Linked DNA regions of Homo sapiens. The protein of the gene in region 2 interacts with the protein of the main gene of each other region in a pairwise test. Each region holds a gene or a part of one and is shown on either strand. Other genes may lie near its edges.

Evidence for each region. Proteins that work in one complex are often made in the same cells at the same time.
Region 1: the proteins of RGS8 (region 2) and UHMK1 interact in binary tests that used the Homo sapiens proteins (3 or more experiments, as listed by UniProt).

Annotation. Positions count from the first base shown.
Region 1 is NC_000001.11:162,507,777-162,511,530, reverse strand, and holds part of UHMK1 (serine/threonine-protein kinase Kist), read right to left. Parts: intron 1-3,754. UniProt on the Homo sapiens protein: Upon serum stimulation, phosphorylates CDKN1B/p27Kip1, thus controlling CDKN1B subcellular location and cell cycle progression in G1 phase. May be involved in trafficking and/or processing of RNA.
Region 2 is NC_000001.11:182,649,958-182,653,711, forward strand, and holds part of RGS8 (regulator of G-protein signaling 8), read right to left. Parts: intron 1-3,754. UniProt on the Homo sapiens protein: Regulates G protein-coupled receptor signaling cascades, including signaling via muscarinic acetylcholine receptor CHRM2 and dopamine receptor DRD2.

The DNA of each region.
Region 1 (3,754 bases), about 20 Mb from region 2:
AAATATTTACCAACTATACATCTGCTAGGGGAGTAATATACAAGATATATAAGGAACTCAATTTGGCTGGGTGTGGTAGCTCACATCTGTAATCCCAGAACTTTGGGAGGCAGAGGTGGGAGGACTGCTTGAGCCCAGGAGTCCGAGACCAGCCTGGGCAACATGGCAAGATCCTCTCTCTACAAAAAAATTTAAAAATTAGCTGGTGTGGTGGCATGCATCTGTAGTTCCAGGATCACTTGACCCTATGAATTCAAGGCTGCAGTGAGCCATGTTTACACCACTGCACTACAACCTTGGCAACAGAACGAGACCCTGTCTCAAAAAAAAAAAAAAAAAAAGAAAAAGAAAAAAGAAAAAAAGAGCTCAAATAACTTTATAGCAAGGAAACAAATAGCCCAATTAAAAAATGGGCAAAAGACCTGAACAAACATTTCTCAAAAGAACACATAAAAATAGCCAACAGTATATGAGAAATGCTCAATATCGCTAATCAACAGGAAAATGAAAAACCAAAACCACAATGAGGTATCACCTCATACCTATTACAATAGCTATCATCAAACAGACAAAAGACATAAAGAAAAGGGAATCCGTACACATTGTTGGTGGGAATATAAATTAGTAAAGCCATTATGGAAAGTAGTATGGAGGCCCCTTAAAAAAAATTTTTAAAAAAGAACTACCAGCAATCCCACTACTGGGTATATATCCAAAGGAAATGAAATCAGTATGATGAAGAGATACCTGTAGGCCCACGTTTGTTGCAGCACTATTCACAATATACAAGATATGGAATCAACCTAAGTATCTATTAACAGATAAGTGTTCATTTCTTGCATGTTAGCTTAAAAAAAAAATTAAAAAACAGATGTGTAAAAAGTAAAAAAAAAACAAAAAACACAGATGAGTAAAAAAAGAAAATATGATATATATATACACAATGGAATACTATTCAGCCACTGAAAGGAGCAAATCCTGTCATTTTCAACACAGATGAACCTGTAGGGCATCATGTTAAGTGTTATAATAAGCCAGGTCCAGAAAGACAAATACAGCATGATCTCACTCATATGTGAATTCTAAAAAGTGTTGATGTCACAGAAGTAGAGAGAAGAATGGTGTTACCAGAGGCTGGGTGGGGGCGTTAGAGGAGAGAGGAGTTTGGGGAGACATTGGCCAAAGCCAAAAGATGCCTAATTACAGTTAGATAGAAAGAATAAGTTCAAGAGATCTACTGCACAACATGGTGATTCTAGTTAATGATGATATATTGGATTCTTGAAAAACATAGGGAGTGAATGTTAAGCACTCTCATCACAAAAAATAACTATGTAAAATAATGCATTTGTTCATTAACTAGATTTAATCATTCCATTATGTATATATACTTTAAAACACGTTGTACATGATACATACAATTTTATGTCATTAAAAAAAGAAGACCGAGATGCTGTTATAGTCTAATAAAATTAATGTATCTCTATATAGCTACTGAAGTGTTTGTGGCATAAAAAGACCATTATTTCCTTATTGTAAGTAAGCATTTATAAAGTAAAAATAAGCCACTTAAAAAACAAAAACTAGGCCAGGCGTGGTGGCTCACGCCTGTAATCCCAGCAATTTGGGAGGCAGAGGTGGGTGGACCACTTCAGGTCAGGAGTTTGAGACCAGCCTGGCCAACATGGTGAAATCCCGTCTCTACTAAAAAATACAAAAAATTAGCCAGGCATGGTGCTGTGCACCTGTAGTCCCAGCTATTTGGGGAGGCTGAGGCAGGAGAATCACTTGAACCTGGGAGGCGGAGGTTGCAGTGAGCCGAGATCGTGCCACTGCACTCCAGCCTGGGCAACAGAGTGTGACTCCATCATACACACACACATACGAAAAAAAACCTATAGTGCCAAACTATCAATAGTTGTAAGATTTGCACTATATTGGCATCTATGTGTAAGAAGGCAGAGGAAAGCTACAATTGATCTGATGAACCAGAAAAAAAATAAACCCAAACAGCCAAAAGGTACTCACTGGACTGCACAGCAAGATGCTGGAGAAAAGCAGCTGAAACTATAAGGGGTTATACATTCTAATACTAAGTGAATACAAGCAGTTCTTTGTAAAATCATAAGAGGTTGGAGTAATCTAGACACTAAGACCTCTTAAAACTAACCAGCCAAAGCTTTCTTTCAGTGCAAAGTCCCACAGTGAGAAGAAATCTTGGGAACACAATCCAAATTGAGCAGGATGAGGGGAGAGAGAGAGGCACCAGAAAAAAGCAGAAGAGAAGAGCCAGGAGATCTCTGAAAAAAGCCACTTTTTGGGGAATATTATACAAAACAACAGAAGAGGGAGCCCTATATAAGAAAAGTTATCCCAAGTATATTTTCTTTAAGTTTAGGAAAATAATTTTCACATAAAAATGGGCAACATAAAAAGGATTATAACTGACTGTGCGTGGTGGCTCACGCCTGTAATCCCAGCACTTTGGAAGGCAAAGGCAGGAGGATTACTTGAGCCCAGGAGTTCAAAACCAGCCTGGGCATCATAGTGTGACTTTGTCTACAAAAAAAATAAACCAGGCATGGTGGTGTATGCCTGTGGTCCCAGCTACTTTGGAGGCTAAGGTGGGAGGATTGCTTAAAGCTGCAGTGAGCTGTGATCACACCATGGCACTCTAGCCTGGGTCACAGAGTGAGACCCTGCCTTGAAAGAAAAGAAAAGAAGAGAAAGAAAAGTATCTATTGTACAAAAAAAAAACTGCAAAATGATAAATCTCAGATAATGTATGCCAGAAAGATATGACCATTATAATCTACTTTTTTTTTTTTGAAGACAGAGTCCTGCTCTGTCACTCAGGCTGAAGTGCAGTGGTGCAATCTTGGCTCACTGCAACCTCCGCCTCCAGGATTCAATCGATCCTCCTGCCTCAGCCTCCAGAGTACCTGGGATTACAGGCAGATGCTGCTAGGCCCAGCTAAATTGTGTTTTTAGTAGAGACGGGATTTCACCATGTTGGCCATGCTAGTCTGGAACTCCTGACCTCAAGTGGTCTGCTCACCTCAACCTCCCAAAGTGCTGGGATTATGGGTGTGAGCCTACCATTTCAAAATGAGCTAAATGGCCAGGCGTGGTGGCTCACGCTCATAATCCCAGCACTTTGGGAGGCTGAGGCAAGCAGATCACTTGAGGTCAGGAGTTCCAGACTAGCCTGGCCAACATGGTGAAACCTTGTCTCTACTAAAAACATGAAAATTAGTTGGGCCTGGCAGCATCCGCCTGTAAGCCCACCTACTCAGGAGGGTGAGGAGGGAGGAACGCTAAAACCTGAGAGGCGGAGGTTGCAGTGAGCACTGTGCCACTGCACTCCAGCCTGGGTGACAGAGTGAGACTTTGTCTTCTCCTCCCCCTGCAAAAAACTCAAATGAGCTAGACATTTTTAAAAAACGATATAAGATGTGAAAGAGCAACAGAAAAAAAATTGAAAATCACAAAAATAAGGTAATAGAACTCAGGAAAGAATTAGACATTTTAAAAATCATTTCATAAAATAAAATTACACTATAAGAGATACAAGGATGAATAAACATAACAAATAATGTCTTAAAGAGTAGGCAAAAAGGAGGATATTTTTAAAAATAAAAAAGAGGCGGGGCACGGTGGCTCATGCCTGTAATCACAACATTTGGGGAGGCCGAAGCAGGCGGATCACGAGTTCAGGAGATCGAGACCATCCTGACTAACATGGTGAAACCCT
Region 2 (3,754 bases):
CTGGAGTGCAGTGGCACAGTTCCGACTCACTGCAACCTGTGCCTCCCGGGTTCAAGCAATTCTCCTGCCTCAGCCTCCCAAATAGCTGGGATTACAGGCGTGCGCCACTACGCCTCGCTAATTTTTGTACTTTTAATAGAGACAGGGTTTCACCATGTTGGCCAGGATGGTCTTGATCTCTTGACCTTGTGATCCACCCGCCTCGGCCTCCCAAAGTGCTGGGATTACAGGCGTGAGCCACCACGCCCGGCCAACAACTCTTAATTCTAGGTGACAGGATGACCTGGGCATCTGACGTCCACCACTATCCACCAGGACCGTGCACTGGCCAGGGTCATTTGATGGATTGCTGGTGCCATGCTGTTGATATATTCAATGCTTACTTTTACTTTCTTGAAATGTTTTCATTTCTCTGAATAAAAAAGTCATTGTATATCTTTGTCTTTCAAAATACATATTTTAATGTCTATACTAGAACAGTATCAAAAAAGCCACATCTTTACTTGCAAGAGCCAGGAACTTAAGAGAAAGGTTTCCGGGTGACTCCCAACACTAAGCTTGAAGTCACAAGGAGATTTAAGTTTGGAAGCCTGAGCTTAAAGTCATTTTAAAAAGTAGGAATGGCCGGGTGCAGTTGTTCATACCTGTAGTCTCAACATTTGGGAGGCTGAGGTGAACAGACTGCTTGAGCCCAGGAGTTCGAGACCAGCCTGGGCAACATGGCAAAACCCTATCTCTACAAAAAATACAAAAATTAGCCAGCTGTGGTGGCATGTGTCCAGCGATTCGGGAAGTTGAGGTGGGAGGATCACCTGAACCCTAGAGGTTGAGACTTATCCAAGTCAGGTCATGTTGAGAGTGAAGGCTGCATTACTGTTAATTACATGCAGACAATAATTATAAACCATGACCACCACAGGCAAAACCCAGGACACATGATTACCTTAACTCTAAACCACAAAGCATAGAGAAAGTAGAATATAATGTAAGGTTACTTCCTGTCAGGCAGGTGGAAAATAAAATTTTCCTGTATCAAAAAAGAAGATGAGAGTAACGTAATTTAGACTCAAATGAGAGGTCTGCTCAGGGCACCTCCTGCTCCCATTCCTACATTGGATTCAAAACTCTGGAGGAAGGGAATAGAAACCCGAGATAAACTGAAAATCAAAATGAAACAATGACACGGCAATGTTTAGGCAGAGATGGACTGAGAATCATTCGTTCAATTCAGCCATGTCTTTTAAAACAACTACTAATGTAACAAAGTACAGATGCTTCTGAACTTATGATGGAGGTATGTCCTGAAAAACCCATCATAGATTGAAAATACCAAGAGTCAAAAATGCACTTAATAAACCTAACCTACTGAACATCACAGCTCAGCCGAGCCTACCCTAAATGTGCTCAGAACACTTTTGGTACAGTATTTAGTAAATTACATGAGCTATTCAGCACTTTATTATAAAACAGACATTGTGTTAGATTATTTGGCCCAGCATTGCAAGAGAGTATCACATCACATATTGCTAGCCTGGGAAAAGATCCAAATGCAAAATTTGAAGTACTGTTTCCACTGAATATATATATCACTTTCACACCACCCTAAAGTCGAAAAATCATAAGTTGAACCATAGTAAGTCAGAGAACAAAATCATAAAATCCTTGCCCATGAAATCTCTCAAGGAAACTCTGTCACCCCTCCCTCACTCTGTCCTCTCCATGGAGAAGATCCAGAAGTCTCCACAGACTCTAGAGGGAACTCGGATTAGACAGCCAGCCTGCCTGCCAGGAGATCCCCACTGCTTGTAGGAGGGACCCCTGAGGCAGAGGCTACAGGCAGAGGTTGGAGGGAAAAACAGCTGGAGCTGTGGAAGCCTCAGTGCTCTTGGAGGAGGTTTTCTCCTTGAAGGAGACCCAGTGCCCTTGAGAACTAAGTGAAGGGCTGGTTTAGCAAGGGGGGGACTCTGAGCAGTGACCAGTCCACGATTTCACTATCAATGGACACAGGGAGGACCTGAGGGTCCGTAGGCCAGAGGTTCCCTCTCTGCCTCCATCTTACCACATTTTCCACTGTATTCAGTGAATGAGGAGGAGAATGAGGGGGCCCTAAAAGACTGTGAATTTGTCTAAAAGAATAACTGGAAAGTGACTTGGAAAAGCAACTCAGAAGAGCCTGTTGTTGGTTTTAAACCAGAAGAGACTATATTCTTCTAATGGGAGAGTTTAAGGTTGTTTGTGTCAGATTTTAATTTTTAACCAAACAGAAACAGGTGCTTATGAGCAAGGTGAATGCAGTTATGAACAAGGAAAGAATATTATCTTTCTGCCTTCCTTCATGGTACTTGTAAAGATAGCCTTGCTAAGGAAACTGTCTGGCCCTGTGCTAGATGAGGTACAGGCATCACCTCCTTAAATCCAGGTTTCAGCTCTGTTGGGTCTTTGTGCGGATGAGTAGAGATAACTTCTGCAAAGTGCTCCCAGGAGCCTTGCTTTACTTCTCATCTTACAGATGAGGAAACCAATGCTAAGAAAAGTGACTTGCCCGATTTCACATAGCTAACAATATGTAGCATTGAAAACTTCATATAAGGTATACTCACCTTCAATCCAACATAGCAATAATGTCATCTTCATTCATTCATTCACTTGTTATGTGACTCAGGCTATGCTATGTGCTAAAAGCAGATATAATCGTGACTTCACAGAACATGCCGTCAAGGGGAAGTTTGAGCCAAGAAAACATAATGATGATGATTATGATGTAGTGTGATAAGTTACATGATAGAGAAAGCAGAGGGGTCATGAAGGACCCAGGAGGGGTGCCTTTGCCGGCCCTGAGGAGGGAAGGGAAGAGCTGTGGGAGGAAGAGGCTTCTTAGCTGACATGGGAGGTAGAGGAGAGGGCAGCTAAGCAAGGGAAGGAAGGAGAGGAAGGAGAAGAGAATTTCAGCAAGAGGGAACCACAGGAATGAAGGCCTAGAATTAAGAAAGTTTACTTGAGTAATTGGAAGTAGTTCATTAAGACAAGCATTTAATAGTAATACAGCTGAAAATGACTAGACCTGCTTATAGGATAGCATACACCAAGAGGCCTGTGAAAGAGCCAGAAAGACAGAAGAATTTTGCAGCACTACAAAAGACCAGGAAGAGATTATTTCAAGAAGGAAGTGGTCACTGTGTCTAGTGCTGCCCAGAGGTCAAGCTAGATACAGTCTGAGAAGCAGTCAGTAGATTCAGCAAGCGTTGGCAGGAAGAGTTTTCATGGTGTGATGGGGTTCTAGGTGTCCCATGGTACGTACGGTGGTGAATGAGACTGAATGAAGTGGAAACAGTCATTCAGATGATGCCTGCAACAAATTTGGTAGAGAAAAAAGTAGAGAAATAAGACAGCATAGCTGGAAGGAAACATGAAGCGAGGAAAGAGATTTTTTTTTTTTTTTAAGATAGACTTGGGTAGGGCCAGGCGCAGTTGCTCACACCTGTAATCCCAGCACTTTGGGAGGCCGAGGAGAGCAGATTATGAGGTCAGGAGTTCGAGACCAGCCTGACCAACATGGTGAAACCCCATCTCTACTAAAAATACAAAAATTAGCCAGGTGCAGTGGCATGCGCCTGTAATCCCAGTTACTCAGGAGGCTGAGGCAGGAGAATTGCTTGAATCTGGGAGGTGGAGGTTGCAGTAAGCCAAGATCGCACCACTGCATTCCAGCCCGGGCAACAGAGCCAGACTCTGTCTCAAAAATAAAAAAATAAAA